Regions from separate parts of the Homo sapiens genome. Here region 1 is linked to region 2. The links come from fine-mapping of genetic effects on gene expression. Tissue or cell type: whole blood. Region 2 holds a variant in brackets; the other region holds the start of a gene. All regions are shown on one strand. Distances are from middle to middle.

Region 1 (8,179 bases), 31 kb after region 2:
AGCTTTTCCTTAAAATCTCAAGTGGTTGATATGTCATGGAGCAAGGGCATGGACCATTCTCTGAGATTCCTGAGCAGAACTTCAGGGAAGCAGATGCTGGCTCAATGCAGACACATCAGAAAACCTCAAACATGAAATGTATGTTCAGTGAGGCAAGGAGCTCCCCGTCTCTTGAGGTATTCATCAGGAGGCTGGATGCCCACCTGACAGGGAGGCTTCAGAGGGGAGAGAATTATGCAGCTGAGCTGTAAACATCTGCAATTCTCTGATTCCTCCTGGGATCAAACTTGCACTGGAACCTTTGCTCTGATTCTTTGCTATTTCTTCTGAGAAGGGCATCATGTGTCTGTTACCACCACGTCCTAGATCATGTGTCTGTTACCACCAGGTCCTAGAATCTCAGACCAGTGGGGCTCAGTTCATCCTACCTTCCCTGCACTTGAACCCTAGAACCTAAGAATGAGCATCGTCTTGACCCTGCTGCCTTGAATGAGGGTCAAGGAGAGGGGTGAGTAGAAGGCCAGGGTTCCTTACAGATGCCAGACCCTTAGGAGAGGGTTGGGGGGTGGGCAGGCCGGGAGAGCTCAGTACCTTTTCTGGTAGAGGGGCAGCACAGTCGTGACCAGGATGTAGTAGGTGATGACGGCACACACCACCATGGTTACACCCAGGCAAAGGGCTCGTGTCTCTCCCCGCTTCTGGGCCATCACCAGCTTCTTCACCATATTCACTGGGGGCAGTGATCATTTCTAGGTCCACAGAAGCAAACAGAAGTGAGATCAGCCCAGTTCACAGGTGATCCACAGAAAGAGAGGACAGGTGAGAGGGGAAGGTACTCAACTATTAATATCACTCTTGTTTATATTTGGAGCTTTGCAACTTCCAGAAGTCTTGCTTTTTGGACCCCATGTAAGCCTTCCCTGTGCAATTGAGAGGCAATTGCAGATAAAAGACCTACGGCTCAGAGAGGTAAAGTGACTTGCCCTAGGTCACACAGTATGTAATAGGCTCAGTAATGGCCCCCCAAGATGTCTATGTTCTAGTCTCTGGAAGCTATCAATGTTACTTTATGTGGCAATGACTTTGCAGAAATGATTAAGATAAAGGCTCTTGAAGGCCAGGTGCGGTGGCTCATGCCTGAAATCCCAGCACTTTCGGAGACCGAGGTGGGCGGATCATGAGGTCAGGAGATCAAGACCATCCTGGCTAACATGGTGAAACCCCATCTCTACTAAAAAAAAAAAATACAAAAAATTAGCCGGGTGTGGTCGTGGGAGCCAGTAGTCCCAGCTACAGGGGAGGCTGAGGCAGGAGAATGGCATGAACCCAGGAGGCGGAGCTTGCAGTGAGCAGAGATGCGCCACTGCACTCCAGCCTGGGCAACAAAGCAAGACTCCGTCAAAAAAAAAAACAAAAAACAAAAAAAGATAAAGGCTCTTGAAATGGGGAGACAATATTGGATTATCCATGTAGCTCCTAAATGTAATCCCAAGGGTCCTAATAAGAGGGAAGTGAAGGGAGATTAAACAGATGAGAAAGCTAAGGTGATATGACCAGGGAGACAGCAATTAGAGTGATGTGACCACAGGCCAAGGAGTGCGTCAGAAGCTGGCGGGGGCAAGGAACAATGGCTCATCCCCCACGGCCACTGCAGGGAGTGCAGCCTGCAGACACCTTGGTGATTTTGGACTTCTGGTGAAATTTCTGTCGTTTGAGGCCGTCAGGTTTATGATCATTTGCTACAACAGTCATAGGTCCCATGCGGTGAGCGAGCAGTACATGTGCATCATCCATGCACCTCCTTCCACGGCACTTATCTCACAGGGATACTTGGAGTATTTCTGCCCAGAAACAGTTCTGTGGCAGGGCTAGCTGGGCCGGGCACAGGCAGGGAAAGGAGAGGAGGGCCCCAGAAGGCAGCTGCAGGTTGTCAGGAGAGGCAGGAGGTTTACCATATTCCGGTGTTTTTTTTTTTTGTAAGGAACATTCCCCTACTTCAAGCAAAGAAAGAAGAAAGAAGGCATCATGGTGGCCTCAGCGACTGCTTTCTTATTTCAGGGCTTGAAGCCACCTGGGACAAAGCAGAATGGGCACATTCTGCTGGTGGTTGCTTTCCTTCTCTCCTCTTTCTTTAGGCAGCAACTCCTTGTTTTTCCCCTGGACATTGACTCCACCCCAATGCAAGCAAAGATTCCACCCTCCCCTGCTAGGCTCCTGATCGCTCCCCCAGGAGTGTGAGTCTTGACAAAGACTTCAAGAAACAGCCCCTCAATCTATGCCGCCTGGAGCCACAGAGATGCCCAGCCATGGTCCCCGCGTGATTTCCCATGGTTCCGCAAGCTGTCCTAGAGCCTCTGGTAAATTTATTTGCTGTTGTTTTTATTTGTTTAAAGTAACCAGAGTCCATTTCTACCAAAAATACCAGGAAGCTATCAATGTAATCCTCCATTTTAGGGGAAATTTTAGGGGAATTTAGGGGAAATTTTAGCCAGATATCAGGGGGACTTTATTCTCCTTGCCAGGTCCCTAAAGTAATAAACATATTATGGTTTTTGTTTGTTTAATTAGCCAGTGTCCGGGTGACAGGCCTTAGTCCAAAGAGATTTTCTGCAAAGTGCTCTATTTTCTGCTCAGGCGTCTCTTAACTACTAGACTGTTTCAAATATTCAGAGATTCTTGACTCCCTCCCCTTAGCCAGGCTGCCCTCATACCCGGGCATCTCCGCTAAAGGGAAGAGACCAGGGTCAGGCACCACGGATACCCATCACACCTTCCCAGTGAGCTGGTCCACCTCCCCTATCGATCGGCAGAGGTGACATCCAATGACAACTTTTTCTCCTTTATTTGGCACCAGGAGGTGAGTTTCTCCTGCATTCTAATGGAGACATTATAAAAGCACAAGCAAGCAGAAATTGCCCCCGACAAAGAGAGATGTTTTATTCAACTCTTTTTATTCAATCCTTTTCCTCCTGTTCTGTGATCTTGTGGGAATGGGAGAGCCCATGCCTTTTTCTACCTGGCGTCAGTTGAACAAGACTCTCCATGTATTCACAGGTAAAGCAACAGAATCACCTGGAGGTAAGCTAAAAGCCCCAACAGCCTGCTTCCCCAGGACCTGCAAGGGTCACTGGCACTTGGCCCCACCCCAGATACTGTGAGACATAAATCATTTGAAGCCAATGGGAAATCCCATCTTGGAAGCCTAGGGCTGAGTGCCCACAACAAAGCCATTTCTCTCCTGGGGGAACTGGATCGCACCTGTGGGGGCTTCCTGTGGCTCCTTCCTGGCTAATCAGCCCCCCCCAGCGCCCAGGGCCATGGCCTCCTCTGCTATTTGGCTTCTAGTGCCCTCTCAGGCCCCTGGGCACTCCTGAGGCTGGTGAAGGCAGGAACCTGGTTTTACCAGTTTTAGGAGCTCAGAAGGAAAGGAAAGGAGAGGCTTCCCTGTCACAGAGAAGTCTGGAAACTTGGCTTATTCAGGTCTGACCCGTCTCTAATGGTCTGATGAGATTGTTGCCTGCACTGAGTGAGTTTATAGAGTCATGATAAATCCTCCTAAGACCATGCGTGGGGTTCAGTGTAGATATGACTTCAGCAAGAAGTTAGTATTCAGCATCCAAAGGGAGAACCTTTGGCGGGAGGAAGGATGGGAACTGTCAATATCCCCCAAGGGACAGAAAGAAAAGGAAGAAGTGGGTTTCAGCTATCATAGGAGGGATTTCAGTTAGACTGTAAGAAGAACTTCCCAGTTTTGAGCATTTCTAAATATCTCTGAAGTTCCAGGATATATCTTCCCATTTAGAAAGGTCACTTGAGATCTGGGATAGATTCAGAGAAGATGGAGAAGGACAAAGGAAGGCAGGACTTTGGAGTGTCCTGGGTGACCTGATAGCTGGGTCGACATCCTTTTCCTTAGAAGGACAAGGAATAGAGTACATTGTTGAACAGTTTGGTGGGGTGTGGACAGGGCGATTCTGAGGTCCTCAGACATGGAATCAAATCCTGGCTCTGCCACTTACACTTAGCAACCACATGACTGTGAAACGAGAACCATGGTACCTGCCTCAGAGAGTTCAGCTAAAGATCAAATGCCATATTGAGTATCAGACATGTATCATAGCACCTAGCCCCAAATCAGCCCCCAGTAAATATTAGCTATTACTACTAACGAAGGAAACCCTGAAAGTTTGGAGCAGAAGTCTGGACCCCTCTTGATGAATCTATTTTTGTCCCACCTCTCTACCGGTGACAAGTGCCAGCATTGGTGTTAATCTCCAGGCTGCAGCCTTCTGGCCACTCTGAGAACTGGGACCTAGAGGGCCAGGGCGCTTACTACCAGAGTAACCTGGCCACTGTGCCACCCTCCCCACTGGCCACCAGACCACGGGCCCTCCATCCAGAAGGACAGCCCCGAGAGGAAGGGAGTCCTCCTGCCTGCCTCCCTCCCTGCCCCGTGGCAGGCTGCTTTCCCCTGTCTCCCTCCAGCCCGGTCTTCAGAGAAATCACTTCCCAAGTGCTTTCAGGCCCGGTACTCACAGTCTTCCCGGCGTCCTGTGGGTCTTGAGCAGCAGACAGTTTCTTTCTGCCTGGACCCCCGCCCCCACCCCAAAAGAGGCCACAGAGCTTCAGCAGGAAGTTTGGCCTCCCCGCCCGTCTCCAGGGAAGCAGCTTTTGGTCCCCATCTGGGGCAAGCCTCCATGCCCAAACATGGTCAAGTCTGAGCACACAGCCTGGAGACACAGACTCGGAGAGCAGGTACCCAGCCCTGAGGAAGGCAGCTGTTACCCAAGCCCTGCACCTCCATCTTCCCAGAGTCTCGTGGGAAACAGATTTCAAACAACAACAGACAGCAAGACTGAGAAACTACGAAAGATCAGCCTGGTATATTTGGAAATATTTCTTCTTCTCTCTGTCTCTGTGGGCTGGCAAAGATGCCAGAAATAGGAAATGATTCTCCTTTTGTTGGCATGAGGAAGGGTGGAGTTGGGCTGGAGGGGTTGGGCTTGTCACTAGTCCCTGGCATATCCACGCTGGAGCAGCTACAGCTCCCTGCCTTTGGCACTTACGTGCTGTGTGACCCTGAGCAAGTTATGGCACCTCTCTGGGCCTCAGTTTCCTTTTTTGTTTTTGGTTTTACTCCCAAACTTATCGTTAAATGACCTCAGTTTTCTCACTTGTGTTACTGGCATTTTTAAAACCTACTTTGCTTTAGGGTAGTGATGGGAGTTAGAGACGGTGGGGATTTATGGCAAGGGGAGAGAACTGACTTTTTAAGGACCAACTGAGCTGAAGCTGGGAGTAGTGAGAGCTCCACAACTGCTTCCAACCAGGTCCAGGGACAGTCTGCTCACCAGGGGCCCTCCCAGAGACCGCGAAAGTACAGAGATTTCTTCCTAGCAATAAGACAAGTGAATGTCAGCATTTGCAGGCAAAAAACATGCTTTTAGATCTCTGCTTCTTCATCTGTAAAGTGGAAGTAAGGATTAAAAATCAGCAACAAAGGGCAGGCACAGTGGCCCACGCCCATAATCCCAGCACTTTGGGATGCCAAGGTAGATGGATTGCTCAAGCCCAGGAGTTTGAGACCATCCTGGGCAACATGGCGAAACCCCATCTCTACTAAAAATACAAAAATTAGTCGGGCATAGTGGTGCATGCCTGTGGTCCCAGCTACTTGGGAGGCTGAGGCAGGAGAATCGCTTGAACCTGGGAGGCGGAGGTTGCAGTGAGTCAAGATTGTGCCACTGCACTCTAGCCTGAACAGAGCGAGACCCCGTCTCAAAAAAAAAAAACAAATATATATATATATATATATATTTTCAACAAAACAACAAAAACAATCCCAGATATTGGGGCTTTCCTAAGTATCAGGCGTGGTGGTAGAAGGCAGCTTATCTCCACCCTTCACTTGACCCAAGAATCAAAGAACCTGAAACTGAGACTTGGAGGCTTGAAGTCACTGGTGCAACCCTAGGGGCCAGAACTAGATTCGAAGCTGGCCCTTCCAGATGGCACAGCTTGGTCTGTCTCTGATGACCCTGGGGCTGCTCTGAGACATTAAAAATCACCTCGATCATACAGTAAGCTGCCACCTGAGGCTCTGGAGGTCACCCTGAGTTTCCCCAGCCCCCAGGGAGGTGGGTGCAGCCTGGCCTTCCCTGCTGAGCGAGCTCACCACCTTCCTCCCTCCTGCCTCCAGCAGGCGCGAAATGAAGGCAGCCACTCAGGCCTCCCTGACACACTCTCAGGCGGTGAGTGCCCTTCTCCACCCCTTTCCTAATTGAATCTTATTAACAGGAGACTACAGTGTCTGTTTAATGGGCACCATAGCACCAGAGGGTCTAAGACCAGCTTCAGACCTTGCAGGCAGATTGACAGAGGGATGTAGGATCTGGAATTCAATCTCAGAAGAGCAATTTTCCAAGGATGATCCTCTGTCCACTCAGAAGCAGGAAAAGTCCTCCTGGGGCTAATCCAGAAATGCCAGGCCCCCCTCCTGCTTCCCTGGGGGAGAGATACACAGTGCAACAGGCTGCCATTTATGAGTATAACCGAAGGGCTCCTTGCTCGTGATACTCTGAATAAGTTATTAAGGGCTACATATTATTTGGAAATCATAAACAAACTTTAGCATTCTTCCCAAGGGAAGGTGGGAACAAACAGGGAAGGGGGGCCGTGGGGTCTTCTGCTCCCCCTAAATGAGCCACAACCAAAAGGCATTGACAAGCCCTGTCCTCGAGGGTTTGTGGGTGAAAACCCAGGTCCTTTGCTGGCTGCGGGGTTGTGTGTGACAGATGGCTACAGGTGGAGGGCAAGAAAATAACAATGCTGCAACAATAAATATTGACGGTTTGCATTAGTACGGGGTGTCAGAGATCACAAAATATCTTCTCTGACTCTTCCAACAGCTTCTTAAGGTACTAGCACAATAGGCTCACAATAGACCACTGAGGTGGAGATTTTTCTACCCATTTGATAGAGGGAGTAACTGAGCCTCAGAGAGGTGAAATAAATTGCCCAAGCAAGTTACTTTGCCTCTCTAAGCTTCAGTTTGTCTGTCTCTAAAATAGAGATAATTATACCTAGCCCCTCAGTGTTTTTGAGGAATGAGAGATCACCTAAGCTACCTGACACATAGTATGGAGATTGTCCTTTCCAAAGATGGTCACACCAAATACTTCCCATTCCATGTGCCCTTTTCACAGTGTGGCATCAACACTCCACCATCAAGAGGGGCATTGATGTCTCTTCCCCTTCACCCTGGGTGGAGCTTCGTAAGGGCCTCAATAGTAGAATATGGTAGAAGGACACAGCACGATGTTCAAGGCTAAGTCATAGACGGGGGCTCGAGTTCCCCCCACACGCTCTCGGGACATGTACCTGGGAACCAGCCACCATGTTGTAGGAAGCCGAGGCCCCGTGCTCCAGCTGACAGCCTCAGCTCAGATCTCAGCCAACAGCTAGCAAATCTCACCGGGCATGGGAGAGAACAAGCCTGCAGACAGTTCCAGCCCCCAGCCTGCCAGCCTCCCAGCTGAGGCCTCAGAGAATGTGGAGCAGAGACAGCCCACCTGCTCTGTGCTCTCTCTGAATTCCAGAGCCACAAAATCCACGAGAAGAAAAAAACTAATGTTTCATGCCCCTGCGTTTTGGGGTAATTTGTTATGCAGTCATAGTAACTGGAACACACTTGCAAGTGATTTCAAAGGGGGACTGTTACAGTTGCTGGTGATAGTGGTAGGATTAAACCAGTGAGAATTAAAACACCTGAGATTGCTATATGGAGTGTTACAGGAGAGTTTAGAAATGCTTTATCTAGGTAGGGCATGGTGGCTCATGCCTGTAATCCTAGCACTTTTCGAGACCAAGGCAGGCGGTTCATTTGAGGCCAGTAGTTCGAGACCAGCCTGGCCAACATGGCGAAACCCCGTTTCTACTAAAAATACAAAAATTAGCTGGGCACGATGGCAGGTGCCTATAATCCCAGCTATTCTGGGAAGCCGAGGCATGAAAATCACTTGAATCCAGGAGGCGGAGGTCGCAGTGAGCTGAGATTGAGCCACTGTACTCCAGCCTGGGCGACAGAGTGAGACTCCATCTAAACCAAAACAAACAAACAAAAAAAGTGCTTTATCTACTCTTAGGTCACACACTATGGCACAAATGGAATAGAAGGGCA
Region 2 (8,179 bases):
ACTTCACTCTCCTCCTCGGTTCCCTTGGAGTACCTTGTGCCCCGGCAGTGCTGTCCCGGCCCTGGCATCCTGAGGTCCTCCCGTGGTGAGGACTTAAGTGGACAGCAGGAGTGGGTGGAGAGAGGGAGGGAGAGTTTGCCCTGCAGGCTCTCTGGATGCAGAAGCCAGACTCGCTGCAGAGGCAGCTGTGCTGTTCCCGGAGCCTGGCTTCAGGGGTGCATCCGTCACTCAGGGTTCATTCACCCAGGCAGGCTCCAAGTTCCTGGGGTGCACAAGGTGGGCACTGTCCCTTCTGGGTGCTGACAGCAGAGCCTGGCTCCCCTCCGCCACCATGAGCGGCTGCTCCAAAAGATGCAAGCTTGGGTTCGTGAAATTTGCCCAGACCATCTTTAAGCTCATCACTGGGACCCTCAGCAAAGGTATGGAAACTGGCCTTGACCCTTGCTTTCTGTCTTGATATGGCCTGGCTGGTCGCATTGCCTCGGTGTGGTGAGCGTGACCATTCTGGTGCACCCAGGTCTTGGAAAAAGCTGGGGAAATTGGTGGCTGGGATTCGAGGTTGCTGACAACCTGCGTCCTGGCTTTGAGTAGGCGGGCACCCAGCCAGGGAACTCAGCTGGCTGTAATTGCCTGGAACTTTGGAAATGGAGTTGGTGGTGTGTGGCTGATACGTTATGGGCGGGCAGAGGGATAGAACCCTTTCCAGAGCATTGGAAGTGGCTTAGCGTGACTGGAGTTTCAAGAAGTTATCCATGGAAGGTTGTATTTTGTTGATAAAAGAGAGATTTGATGCAGTGGGTTGTGAGTAATTCTGCAGAACAGAGACGCTTGAGGGGGCCAGTGGGAGGTGGTGATGGGCCGGCATCTGCTTTGCCCTGGTGGCTTCAGAAACCGGATCAGCTCTGCACCTCAAGTGCCAAGAGCCTCCTCTCATAGGGTTCCAGCGTCTCGTGCTTCTGGGGCTTCATTCATCGTTCTGCTTTCTTGGATCCCTGTCCCTCCACATTTCATGCCTATGTCCATGCCTGTCTTTTCTGCTTCTCCAGGAACTGGGGTGGCAGGTGGTTTGCAGGAGTAACTGTCTGGGCAGATCAGAAAGTGTGGCTATGGACCAGAATTAGGGCTGCAGCCCCAGATGGGCCCACAGCCGGGAGGCAGAAAGAAGGCTAACTCCTCAGGGCCCAGTCCTGTGTCTTAAACCCCATTTTACACTTGGCACCAGGGAAGGTGAGGCCCTCAGAGGGGTCTGGCCAACTTTGTGGAGATGATGTCAAGGGAGAGCAGCAGCATGATGTGGTTCCACTGGCTGAAAAAACGTCTTTAAATATTCATGCTGTCTTTCAGGAAGAGTCTTTGGGGGCTGGGGAGAGAGGCACTGGAAGCAGCAGGCAGAATATTCAGGGAAGGAGCCCACAAAACTTTGATGGGATTTTACAAAATGACAATGAGAGCAGAGAAAGGCTATATGCAGCCAGATCTCATGACATGGCTCAGGTGCCCGCCACCCAGCGGGTCTGGCCCAGTGTACGTTGTGTGGCATGTGTGGGTGGTGGGAATGATGGGATTCTGTTTATCTCCTTCCTTGGGATGTTCTGACCTTCCTGTTATTTCCCTACCATCCTTCTGAAGTGGGGCACTGCTCTTCCAAGATACCCAGGTGGGCTGAGCCCCCAATGTGGAGGGCCAGGCTGCCTGGCAGAATTCCTGGAGGCCAGAAGTGGGGTAAACAGGAGGTTAATGGGTATAGCTGTGATTGCTCTCAGTGGCTTTACCTCCTGGAGAAGGAGAAAGCAAAGGGGTTAGGAAATTTCACAAAGTCTCCCCATTCAATCCTCAGAGACAGCTGGAAGGTTTTCTTTCCTCATTACAGATAGCAGGACCTAAGAGGGTAATGGGTGTGGGGCAGCAACCCATTGCAGCCTCTCATGGAGGGCTTGTCCCCACCTGCAGTCTAGTGGCGACCCAGACCCCACACACAGATGCTCCCTGGATGCCACACTGAGTGCTGAGATGGGGGAATCATGGGGGTCAACAGGCATAGAGAAGAGATGTCTGGGGCAGACTAAGGAGTGCCTCCAAACAGTGACATCTAAGCTGAGATGAGGAGAGGCAGGGCTGAGAAGGTGGGAGGAAGCCGAAGCTGCCAGAGGGAGCAACATCAGAGTGTTGGCCTCTGCAAGGAACCAGCTGGAGAGTCAGAATGCCTCCCTCTCTCTGCTCAGAATCCCAGAAACTAAGATCCATGTGACACAGAAGGGACTCCGTGGGGACCTGGCCTTCCTGTGAACTGCTTCAGTACAGCCTTTCCTGTGGCCAGGGCTCAGAGAGGCAGCCCATGGCAGGCACCAGGGCAGGATTGTGTCTTAACCGCATCTGTCTTCTTTGCTTCAGCTCCGCAGAGAGGACCAAGTGTTTACACAGCCCCGGCTCTGCGCCAGGCACGTGCTAGGTGACTGGTGTTCTACCCGATCCAGGTGTTTGCTAAATATTTGTTAAATAGTGAGGAACATGGGAGCAGGGCCAGGCTGGGAGCAGGGTAGCTGAGAAAGGCCTGCAGAGAGTCCAGAAAACGGCTTTCTAATGTTTACACCTCCCCTAGGTGGATTTAGATTCAACCCTACATGGATACATTATGATTGCTTAATGATTTCTGATTTTAATTTGATTTCACTTATTCATTATTCATTGCACTGAGTTCTAGATTTGCAGTAATCCAACCCTCAGGAGAGGGATTTTTCTTTGTCCCTTGCAGAACTGAGGAATGTAAAGAATGTGTTGGACCAGGTACCTGCTTGTTCTATGGCAATTTACTGTTTCTTACCAGCCTTGCAAATACCTGGGGGACAAGGAGGGTCCAGGATCACCCTCCCTGTCCTGCCTGTTCCTAACCCTTGGCCACCTCCTGCCATGCCAGAAATCCTTCTTGCCATTTGTCTAAGATGCCAGCTAGCCCAGATTTCTCATCAGCGCTTATTGCAGAGATAAACTGCTCATGTCCACCTGCTCACATATCTCATCAACCTTGAACTTTCCTTCCTATCCCTGATCATAATTTGTGGTCTGCATTCCCTTTAGGAACATGTTTGCTAAAGGCTCTCTTCCCCACTAGACTTCAGCTCCATCATGGCAAGACCATGTGCATTTTTTTGCTCACCACTGTGGCCAGAGCTACTAGCATGGGGCCCAGAATGGAGTATGTGTGTTACCGTGTTAAACGAATGCAACGGCACCGCACGGCACAGACACCAGCCGTCAGCCTGAGATGACCCCTGGTACAGGAGCTTTCTAGGAAGCACTATGCAACACCTGTCCCACAGGTGCTCAGCAAATGCTCTCTGAAGTCTGTTTAGCTGCAGCAAGCTGAGTCTGCAGCCTCCAGCCTCCAGCCTGCGTGAGCCTCCAGCCACGTAAAACATTCAGGCTGGGTCTGAGCTTGCATAGTGTCTAGGGAAGGGCATTAAGATTGTTCCCAGAAGGAAAGGCTGGGTGGGCAGGCTTCTGGCATCCCCACTCCCACCCCTCTGGCTCTATTTTTATTTGTTTTATTTACTGGATTTCTCCCACATTTAAAGAATCTCTTTGGCATTAAAAAAAAAAAAAATTTCAAACCACGAATGCAGTGAGGAGCACAGTTGGTTTCTAGACTGAGACATCCCCGGACCCTGCACTGTGGCTCGGAAGCCTCGGACTGGGTCCCTCACCTCCCTGGCATTTAGTTTCCTCATCTATAAAATGGAATTACAATACCCTTCTTATGGGGTTGAATGAGATTGTGCAGATAAAGCTCCCTGCCTATTAGGTGCTCAGTAGTGTTGATGGATATGACTTCTGTTATTAGCGGATACTCTCATGGTTGAGAGCCCCTCCGGGCTGGGACTCCCTCTCACTCATTACTTGTTTTCTCAGCACCAGGCACAGATTCTAAGAGCAACATCTCATGATCACTTTATGAAAGCCTATGGCCTTGTCAGTTACTGCATGACTTTATTTATTTATTTATTTTGAGGCAGGGTCTCATTCTGTTCCCCAGGCTGAGTGCAGTGATGCAATCACGGCTCACTGCAGCCTCGACTTTCTGGGCTCAAGCAATCCTCCCACCTCAGCCTCCTAAATAGCTGAGACCACACATGTGCACCACCACAACCAGCTAATTTTGACTGTTTATAGAGACAGGGTCTCACTATGTTGCCCAGGTTGATGTCAAACTCCTGGCTCAAGAGACCCTCCTGCCTTGGGCTCCCAAAGTGCTGGGATTACAGGCATGAGCCACCACGTCCAGCCACTGGATGACTTTAGACCACTGCTTCCCCTCTGCTCAACTTGTTTTCTTAAGGGCCTACCCAGAGCCATCTCCCTCACCTGATTCCTTATTAGGAGTTAAAAGCCTGACTCCCAGAGCCAGGTCCTCGCCTGCTGTTTAACCTAGGAGAAGCCCAGCTCCTGGCTCGGATGCTTGGTGAAATCAGGGGTCTGGGGAACCTGCGTCTTCCTCTTTCTGCACAGTCAGCTCCCC[T/A]CCACCCGCCTCACAGACTTCCTGGGGGCCGCTGGCAGGAACCAGAAGTTGTGCAGGCTCCATTCTGGCTGGGGAGGTTTAAACTCATCTCCTTCTGCACTGGGAACAAATGTTACCCCAGGCACAGATGACAGAGCCAAAGTGAGCAGAAGGGAGGAATCCAATCCAGGAGAGCTTCTAGTGTCCTCCAGGCCACCCATGAGGCTGCGGGGGTGGGGAAAAGGGGTGTGGGAAGATGAGATCTATCTCAAGGACAAGGCCCTGGAGCCGTAACTCTCCCCTCCCGCCCAGGCCCAGGCTGTTCCTCTTTTTTCGAGGCAAAACCTCAGCTGCCCCATCAGTGACACACTGTTCCTCTTGCCTCCTCCCACTGCTGTTCAAGATCCTCAAGAGACTGACCTTGGACCCGGGCATGGACTCTGCCTTCAAGCAGGCCAGGCTGGAGTACCAACTCTGCCTCTTACCAGCTGTGTGAAGTTGTGTCATTTGAACACCACCCCAAGCCAAGGCTCCCCACTTTTAATTGGAGATAATAATAATATCAATGGCACAAGGCTGTTTTTTAATGTAATGATGATATGAGTAAGAGATATCAGCTCACAGGCAAATCCCAACTCTGCTCTTGCAGGGCACCCGCCCCCGCTTACATTTTGTGCCCTAGGCACCTTCCTTGCCTCTTTCTAGTCTTGATCCTGGAGGTAGGGATTGCAATCACCATTTCAGCAGGTAAGGAAACTGGGGTTTAGCTAAGTGTCGTGGCTCCCCTGGTGAGTGGCAGAGCTGGGATTAGAACCCAGGTCTTGCTGCAGCCAAGACAAGGTACATTCCTCTGCACTCCTAGGGCTGGAGAAGTCACGCCTGCCTGCACTACTCCCCACCTTGCCACCAGCAGAGAGTCCCCCAGCGTCCCACTAATTCTGTTGGTGGGTTTTTCCCTGCTGGGTCTGATCAGAGCAGCCACCTGTCATGCAAAGGGTTGTGACAAATTCCATAAAGTGTCATCACCTGGGTTATGGGGAAAGGGAACACTCCAGAGGCCAAGATCAGCAGGACAGCCATACCCATGCTCTCTCAGTATCCCTATCACCTCTCAGGCAGGTGTGCAGGCCCAAAGCACCTGCCAGACACTGAGTAGGCTCTGTCCCATGAGGGCCACTCCCCCATGGCTCTCCCTTCTTACAGGCCAAGTGTGAGAAGTGTTCTTGGGTGTGGGAAAATACACACAAAGTTTTGGACACTAGGCAGGCTGGAATTGAGGTGTTGCAGCTGTTTACTGGAATTGTCTGGGAAAGCAGAAGCCTTCACACTGGGGACTTTGAGACCTGTGAGATATCATCATCCCTCTACCAAGAGGAGAATGCCACCTGTCCCATGAAAAGCTAAGCTTCAATGCTGCCCCTTGCTGGGGAAAGAGAGTCCCCACCATCCGAGTCCTGGCTCGCTCACTGTCCTGGCAGTGAGGGGCTGAGCAAGCACTCTGGTCATGTTACAACAGCCCCACTCACTCTCTGCAACCCTGGAACCTCTGAGTGCCAGTGCTTTGTCACAGGAAGAAAGTTTGATTATCCAGGGCTTCTGGGTCCCTGCCTACCTCTCCAGCCCCAAGCTAGAGCCTGCCAGGAGGGGCATGTGTTCACCTTGGCCCTCCTGATGTCCAGTAGCCTTCATCCCAGCCTACTGGCCTCACCACCCTTGCCCCTCTGCAGCAGGCCCAGCATTCCCTGACCCATTTGGGTTGTTCAGGTGCTCAGCTCACTAGGGTCTCCATAGTCCCACAGTAGAAGGCAGAGAAGAAGGAGGGATCACCTGCCCCTCTGGAGCCTCCGGGTCTTTCTCCTAGATAACCCTGTTACCATGCAGGAGTAATTTGTTCAGGGCCATTTATCCTGGCACTGCTGCACAGACATCCTATTAACTTCAGGACCACAGGGGAGCGGCTAGTTTGCTCCAAATTAAAAGTAGCTGGAAACGGGGCCCTCTGGCAGGCAGGAGAGTTCAGGCTGCCACACCACAGCCCTGGGAGAAGTGGATCTAGTCAGGTCTTCATCAGCCTTCTAAGTCCAGGGCCTCCTTTGCCATGCCACAGGGACCCTCATCTTCCCCAGTCTTCTTAGGGTTACAGAATCTCCCCTGGGCCATCTCTCTCAGCAGACCCAGGTCCCAAATCCCTGAAAGCCTTTGCTTCCCAAGGGTGGAAGTGGCGATGTGAAGTCACTGTGGAAGGAAGCAGGATGCAGGGCGGGAAAACTCTGGACCCAGAGGGACCTGGGCTCCAACCCTGCCATGCACCAACAGGACAGCCTTGGGCAAGCCATTCCCCATCTTGAGTCTGTGTCCTTCCGTAAATGGGCCAGTAATTTCCATCTCATGTGGCTACTGGAGATGGAATGAGATGGGACATGTGACAGGCACAGGACCTGGCTCATACAAGCTGCTCAGTAAAAGTCAAGTTCCCCACCCTTCTTTTCTATGATACGACCTTGGATTTGTAGCCAAGAGAAACAAGGCTGAGCCTCTGTGGGTCAAGTCCTCTTCCCAGCTCCTATCCAGATGTGCTGCTATTTCAAAATTATCCCCCCTGCCCCCAGTCACTCTTGATGACAAGTTCTATAATTAAAAATGTGCCAACAATGGAAATGATCCTTTTTATTTAGTTGTTCATGGGAGAATTGGTCATCCATTCTCATGAGAATGGGAGCCCTGTGAAAGCGTTCACCACGTTCACCACGTGGGAATCACCTAGAGTGAGTGCCTCAAGCACCTGCAGCCGAGGAAGGAAGGTTGAATAAATAACGACTAAATGCTTTCCCTGCCGAGCAACATCAGGCCATGTGGCTGGAGTTCCCTTTTTGAGGTCTGGTCTTAGTCAGGCTTGCTCTGGAGCCTACCACTCCCTATCTCCCTTGTCTGAATTCCTGTGCTGGAGTTTGACAGCAGTGACCAGCCAGAACGACCTGGATGAGACAAGGGTCAGTGCAAACAAGACCAAAGGCCTGTTCCTGCCCCCATTCCGCTCTCATGCTCTGCTGGGGGACTGCCCCTGGGTGCAGGCCCACACTGCCTATGCATCACAGCTGGCCAGGTGCTCAGGTGAGGCGGCGGTTCTTCCCCGTTGTCCACCTGCACCCCACCCAGAAGTGCAGGAGGAGGGACCCCACTGAAAGGCAGGCAGCAGGGGAGAGGAGCTTTGGGGGAGAGGATGTGGAAATGAGGAAATTGCATAGGCCTCCCGGGCCAGCTGGAGGAAAGAAAGGCCAGGACTCCTGAAAAAGACTCATGGGAAGTCATTTACTATCACCACTGACCACGCTCTCTGTCACAGGTCTTCAGTCTAGGGGCAGAAGAAAGCCTTCCTTCTCTGTTAGGATGAGGGGAGGAGGACCATGAACACAAAGCTAACCTTGGTCCCCTCTGGCTGAAGCCACTGAGATTCCATTTTGTGTTCTTAGAAGAACACCCGCTTTGGAGCCAGACCTGGGTTTGAGTCCAAATCCTCACAACTGCTTGCTGTCTTAGGCCATCAGGCTGCTTATCAACCTGATGGCCTAAGCTACCATACAAAGACACGGTGGCTTATCAACAACAGAAATGTATTTCTCACAGTTCTGGAAGCTGGAAGTCTGAGATCAGGATGCTAGCACTGTGGACTTCTCGTGGGGACTCTTC

Evidence for each region. PIP is the estimated chance that this variant, and not a neighbour inherited with it, causes the effect.
Region 1: KCNMB1 starts here. The variant in region 2 is fine-mapped to the expression of KCNMB1 in whole blood (TOPMed, PIP above 0.99). The same link has a PIP of 0.9 or more in blood mononuclear cells.

The regions. Positions count from the first base shown.
Region 1 is chr5:170,384,723-170,392,901 of GRCh38, forward strand. KCNMB1 (potassium calcium-activated channel subfamily M regulatory beta subunit 1) reads right to left here and starts at 4,645. Exons shown (of 4, transcript NM_004137.4): 1 at 4,537-4,645; 2 at 592-749. The coding sequence starts at 725. It overlaps KCNIP1-OT1 (KCNIP1 overlapping transcript 1), which reads left to right and starts at 4,771. Exons shown (of 3, transcript NR_109899.1): 1 at 4,771-4,881. It also overlaps a transcript of KCNIP1 not described here. RefSeq lists enhancers at 2,760-3,260, 3,261-3,761, 5,686-6,186, 6,187-6,687, 6,940-7,440 and 1 more.
Region 2 is chr5:170,353,546-170,361,724 of GRCh38, forward strand. It overlaps a transcript of KCNIP1 not described here. Among named protein-coding and RNA genes, the nearest start is that of LINC01366, 26 kb to the left of the region's middle. RefSeq lists an enhancer at 7,558-8,058. The variant T/A (reference allele first, on the strand shown) is at 4,514.